2 linked regions of the Homo sapiens genome follow. The protein of the gene in region 1 purifies or fractionates together with the protein of each later gene. This does not show direct contact. Each region holds a gene or a part of one and is shown in the gene's direction. Other genes may lie near its edges.

Region 1 (4,096 bases):
TCCTGCCTTCAAGCATTTCTCCGGCCTTAGCTTCCCGAGTAGCTGGGATTACAGGCGCCCACCACCACGCCCGGCTAATTTTCTTTTGTATTTTTAGTAGAGACGGGGTTTCACTATATATGTTGGCTAGGCTGGTCTCGATCTCCTGACCTAAATTGATCCTCGGCCTCCCAAAGTGTTGGGATTATAGGCGTGCGCCACCTCACCCGGCCTTGTTCCTTGTATTTATTTAATTCTGTGATGATGAATAAACCAAACGATCAGGCTGTCAATGTGCTGTGAGATTAAGGAGAAAAGCAGTAGGCAGCACGTACCCGGTTTTACAAAACCCTGCGGGTCACCTGTTTACTACCGTCAGCCTAGACCGGTTTTTCCACCTCCTTCTGCTGACATTGGAGGACGGGTATCATTCTTTTTGGGGGGTCGTCGTGTGCACTGCAGGGTGCTGAGCGGCATGTCTGGTCTGGACCCACTCGATGCCAGCAGCACCCCGCACTCAAGTTGTGACAACCAAAACCGTGTTTTCAGACATTGCCAAGTTATCCCCTAGGGGGCAAAGTCACCCAGAAGAAGAACCACTGATGTATGCAATTAACAGATGCAACTAAAACAGTATTTGGCTATTAATAGTAATAGCACTTGGGGGGGGGGTCAATAATATCTTTTCATAGTCATTGAATTTAGTTAATTGTTTTGATTTGATTCCAGTTCAGCCCCGAACTGGGTGACCTTGGCCAAGTGACTCAGCCTCTCGGACCCTCGGGATCCTCTTCTGTGAAATGCGGACAGGGGAAGGAGCCTCGCGCGGGACGCTCACGTGCCGTTCCCGCTCCGTCCGCCCGCCTGGGGTGCGGGCGGGTACACTCCCACTCCCCGCAGCGCCCCACGCGGCTCCACCGCTTCCGAGTGAAGAGTTAAAGAGGAAGCGGCAGCCGCGCCTGCGCCCACAGTGCCTAGCCCGGAGCGCCGGTCTCGCAAGCGCGCACGCGCACGCAAGCCCGCACGCGCGCGCACGCACGCACGTGGCTCGGCCCGCGCGCATCCTCCCCTTGCAGGGGCGGGGCCAGCGCAGGGACTCCATTTCCCAGCGTGCCCCGCGGCAACGCCAGGAGCCTCCGAGGAGAAAGGAAAACGCGCGACGGCCCCGACTGCGGCGGCGCGAAATCCGCCTCAGGGACGCACGCACAGACGGAGTACCCCTGGACCCGCCCCCGGAGACCCCGTGCGGGAGCGCGCCCGGGCGTGCGCAGGGGCGGCGGCGCGGCGGCGCGGGGACGCGCGGTGACCGTTGGCGCCGAGGGGAGGAGGCAGCCGCCGCCGCCGCCGCCGCCGCCGCCGCCGCCGCCGCCGCCGTTGCGCAGATCCGGGCCGCGGCTGTGGGGAGGGCGACGGAGCGGGTGACCTTCCGGAGGCGGGAGCGAGCGAGGAGGCCCGGGAGCGCCGAGCGTCGCCGCCGCCGCCGCCATGAACAACTCGGGCGCCGACGAGATCGGGTGAGGACGAGCGGCGCGGGCCTGCGTCTCCGCCCCGAGCCCGGCCCGCCGCTCCCCGCCGCCCGGCCTCAGACGCCGCCCCCCGGGGCCGCCCCGTCAAGGTCACGCCGGCCGGGGGCGGACTCGGGACCCGGACTCGCCGCGGCTTCGCGCCGGGGGCCCTGGACGGGTGCCCGGGGTCTGGGGGGGTCCTGGCGCCCCCGCCGCCGCTTCCCGGCTTCCCGTCCTGGGGGATCCTGAAGGAGAGCCTGAGGGGTCCGGGGGGCCCCGCCGCCGCCTCCAGACTTCCTGGTCGGGGGAACCCCGAACGGCAACCTGGGGGGGTGTCCTGGGGCGCCCGTGCCGCCGCTTCCCGACTGCGCGTCCTGAGGGACCCCGAATGGGAGCCAGAGGGGTTCAGGGGCCCCCGCCGCCGCTTCCTGGTTGTGGCGGCCCCGAACGGGAACTTGGGGGGGTCTGGAGCGTCCCCGTTGCCGCCTGTAGGGCTTCCTGGCCTGGGGGACCCCGAATGAGAACCTGAGGGAGTCTGCGGGGAGTCCAGGGCGCCGTCGCCGCCGCCTCCCGGCTTCCTGGCCAGGGGGACCCCAAACTGTGGCGTGGGGGGTGGTCCGGGGCGCCCCCAGCGCGCGCCCAAACTTGGCGGGCGGCGCACGTGGCGAGCCGAGGCGAGGGTTCCGGTTCTGCCACCGCCCAACCTATCCCACTCGGGGCTCCGGGCTCCCCGCTCCCATCCCACCCCCCCAAAGTGGTAAGGTCGGGAGGGGTTCGCAAACCCAGGGCCCAGGGGGCTCGGGTCAGCCGGGGCCTGCTGTGTTTACGTTGCCTCGGCGCCTCCCCGCCGGGGGTGGGCTTGAGCTGCGGAAGGGAGAGTCAGCGCTTCCGAGGCGGCGACGGGCCCGCGGATCTTTGCTGCGCCGAGGCGTCCCCTCCTATAGGAGCCTGACCTGCTCCGGACCCCGCGGGGCCGGGAAACCTCATTTCGCTGTGCCCCAGGGCTCGGCGCCATTCTTTGGTAGGAGCGGCTCCTGCCGCAGCGACGTCGTTTTAGAGTTGCATTCTTCCGGCAAAACAGTCTGGGTTGGGTTTCCTAGTGGTCTGGTGTAAATTTCTCGGTGCCCTTAGCTTTGAGCAGCGCCCTGTGTTCTCAGCGCTGGGCTTGGCTAGTGCGGGAGCGGTTGCTGCTAGAGGGTTGCCTTGGCAGGCGCCTCTCGCACCAGCTACAGGTCACACTTGTGGATGGGAAATGCCTTTTGTGGGCTCTCCCCCTCCCCAGACAAAACAAAAGAGCACCTTCCGTTGGAGAACCAGGATGAAAGCACTTAGCCCCTGCCTAGCCCGTGCTGTGAGTCCTCTCCAGGCACTTTGACTTGGCAGGGTCCGTGTGCCTGTGTGAGGGACATTGCAGGGATGGGCCTGAGCAGGGAGTCCACCGGCCATGGGGGATGGAGCCATCGACTTTGGGGTGAGGCAGGGAAAGGGCTCCCAGATGGGGTACCTGGATTAGGTCCATTCAAGCCGCGGGTGAACGTGGGCCCGCTCCACCCAAGCCGTGGCTGTGAGGAGGCTGGAGAGAGGTGAGGGCTCCTGTCCCCTCCCTGCATGGACACCCTTGGGAAGTGGGGCAGCTGGGGTCCCAGCCTGGGTCTGGAGGGGTCCCACCCACAGCACAAATAGGCTCGCAGGCCACCCGGACGCCACGGGCTGCGTGGAGGAGAACTGGAGTGCATGGACCCTGCTCTCCTCCCCGGCTGCCAGGAGTGTCCACTGCTTTCTAAGTCAGACTCCTTGGGCAAGAAGTGTTGCCACAGCCGCCCGTCGCATGGGAGACCGGCTTCCATTCTATGCGGAGTCCACGGTCTGCTCTGATCTTGCTGTGTGGAGTTGTTGTGTGCGTGAAATGCTTGTGACCCTGCGAAGCGCCCTCCTGGCAAGTCCCCTGCAGGTGCGGTGGGTGCCATGCAGGAGGGTGCTGAGCTTGGATGGAAGCAGGCCCTCTCTGCGGCAGATGGCGGCTCTCAGGACGCCATGGGTCTGCGGTGTCCCTTACCCACTGGGGGGGCTCGGCAGCCTGAGGAGCTCCCTCTTCCTGATGCAGAGCCCTCACTGCTCACTGCCATGGAGGAGGCAGGAGATCCCGCCGGACCCCGCTTGGAGGGCTGGGCCTGGAGCATGCATGGGTGCGGGGTCAACGCCTCAGGAGACTTGGAGCTTGGGAGCCCCCTGTTCTGGGACACTTGTGGCCGTCCAGCTGCTGCCCTGGGAATCCACACCTGGAAGGTGGGTTAGGGAGCCATCCTTGGGGGAAGCTCTGCTTTTGAGTCTGAGAAGTCGTCCCAAGTTTTGAGGGTCCCTGTGCTGGCTTAGAAGTCCATGTAAAGCTTGATGGGGGATGAAAGTCAGCTGAGGCCTGCCGGTGATAACGGATGCCTTACACACACCGACTTCCAGTCAGCTTGAGGGGGGCTTCATGCAGGAGGAAGCGCATACGTGTGGTGGGGTGTGGGGAGTCCCTCTCTGGATCCTGGTGGGTTTGGCACGCGGACCCTACATGGTGGATGTGATGGACAGTGTCCTCCTTTGGGAGCGGGGCCTGTCCTGGTCCT
Region 2 (2,377 bases), on another chromosome or scaffold:
AAGGGAAATGAAAACTGTTTGTGATCTTCCGTATTCACTGAAAAATAAATGCTTGTTTAGTATCAAATTTTATTTCACGAAAGTTTTTTTAAAGAACAGAAACTTTTCCAATTAAAAAAAAAAAGCAGACTTCTGGTTCAAGATAGCTCACTGGAATACATGTTTACCTCTTTCTTTCCTAAATTGCATTGAATTGATAGGAAGGATGGCGGAATCTTAAAGTGATACATGCTAACTGTAGAAAAAAATAGAAAATGCACATAAGCAAAAGGAAACATTTAAATGCTATCTTTCAAAGATAACTACTCTTAAAACCTTGAGTATCTTTTCAGACCTTTTTCTTGGCAAATGAATCCATATTGACATATTTGATTTTTTTAAAAACATGGAAACGTACTGTTTTGTAAATTCTTTTTAACTGCACATCTACTGTTCATAAATATACCTCTGTAACATAACTTTTTGTGGTTCTAATGTACTCTGTTGTATAGCTAATACAAGTTAGGATGCTTTTGGCCAGAGGTAACAGTGTCCAAATATAATTGGCCTAAGTAACCTAGGAAATTGTTTGACATAACACAGGGTTCAGGGGTGTCATTAAAGACACACTTTTTTTGCCTTGACCTCAGTTGGTTTGTTTTGCCTTAGGCTATTCCACCTCTCGATCACAAGAGCTGCTGCTATAACTTCCAGTTTTACATCTTTGTAAAATTGTATCTCAAAGGCAGAAAAGGCCATTTCGTCTCTCATTTGTTTTATCCATGAGGAAGATTTTTAACAAAAGCCTCCAGAAGATTTCCCCTCAGTTTCCATTGACTTAGATCAGGTTACAGAGAAAGGCAATGTCTGACATTTTTGGTCTCTGTTAGAAGTAGACTCTGTTGAAAAGAAAGAAGCTAAGCTAGGTGTGAAGAATGGAATTGGAAGCCCACTGCCTTCCCATAAGAAAGGTTTACCATAATTTACTCACTTTTTTCTGTGTTAGACATTTTGATTATCTGCAGTTTATTACTACAAGCAGTGGCAGAGTGAATGTCCTTGTACATTTTGAGTTACATGCTTAATTATGTCCTTGAGAAAGTTTCTAAAAGTGGAATGATTGGTTTGACTGGTTCATAGGGCTTTAATTATACAATTTACCCCTCTAATTAGTACTATATGTATGTGACTTCCCTCCCCCTGCCAGAATACTCCTTGGTCAATTGTAGGTATTCTTTTTGGTTTAATTTTTGCCAATGTAATTAAAAAATGGTATGTCATTTTTAAAATTTGTATTTCTTTCATTACAAATAAGATTGTTATGTCAGTATTGTTATTGGCTTTTCGTATTCCTCTTAACGTGAACCGTCTGTTCATTGTTTTTACCTGTTTTCGTTTTAGCAAGTAGTACTTAATTTAAAGTGTGAACTTAATATATAAGATGCCAGGACCATCATATTGATGACAAAAATCTATTATGTGGTTGTAGTGCATGTCTTGGAGTTAAACTCTTAAGTATCAAGAAGTAAAATAATTTCATTGTTTCTGTTACTAACATTAAAAGTGTGCAAATTGTATAAAATTAGGTACTTCGATTAGTAAAAGAAAAAAATTTGAATGTTTTTTTTTTTTATTTTATTAAGCATGCCCAGTTATGCCAAGCATAGTAAATAAAGGTCAAGTAGCATTTATAATAGAGGAAGTATTGTTATCCCTAGCATGAGTGTAATGGTGATATGAAAAACTTTGTCTTGTCATTATAATAATAAAAAAATGAACATTTATTATGGAATTTCTATGAGCCTGACACTGTGTTGGATTTGTGTTTTTTAGTTTTTAGTTTTTCTATTACTTTTAATCAAAGTTTCATGTGTACACAGCTTTAAAAAATTGGATAGATCTGTAAGATTTTTTTCCTAAGGAAAAAGGCCATTACTCTGACTTCTTCCATTTCCTGTCTCCAGGGCAAGCCCTTTCAACTCTTTTAGATGTTATTTTTTTTGTTATTTATTACCATGTCTCCAAATGACATGCTTATATTGCTTTTACTTGATTTTTTAATTTTAGGCATTGTTTCTTTGATTTTCAAAATAAAGCTTCCCTCTTCTGCTTCCCAGCATTACACATTCCCTTTTTATCCCCTTTTCTCCTCCCAACATAACAATTCAATGTTTACATTGTTGACTGTGATTACACTAAGGATATGTGTACATTATTGAGATTATGTAACTGCTGTATACAGCTGAGTGATGTATTATCCTTACCATATACTAATTTCTTATTTCCTTTAGTTAATTGACTGCATAGATTTCTACCATATGTATGAATATCTTCTCTATATGTTCAAACGTAACAATGATTCCATCAGTTTCTTTCATCTTTTAAAAAATCACTCCTA

Evidence for each region. The genes of interacting proteins can lie anywhere in the genome.
Region 2: the proteins of DAZAP1 (region 1) and AASDHPPT fractionate together in Homo sapiens (co-fractionation; one large-scale study listed by BioGRID). This does not show direct contact.

Annotation. Positions count from the first base shown.
Region 1 is NC_000019.10:1,406,310-1,410,405, forward strand, and holds the start of DAZAP1 (DAZ-associated protein 1), read left to right. Parts: upstream 1-1,276; 5' UTR 1,277-1,464; coding exon 1,465-1,493; intron 1,494-1,575; exon of another isoform or gene 1,576-3,312; coding exon of another isoform or gene 3,313-3,770; intron 3,771-4,096. UniProt on the Homo sapiens protein: RNA-binding protein, which may be required during spermatogenesis.
Region 2 is NC_000011.10:106,096,925-106,099,301, forward strand, and holds the end of AASDHPPT (L-aminoadipate-semialdehyde dehydrogenase-phosphopantetheinyl transferase), read left to right. Parts: 3' UTR 1-1,771; downstream 1,772-2,377. UniProt on the Homo sapiens protein: Catalyzes the post-translational modification of target proteins by phosphopantetheine.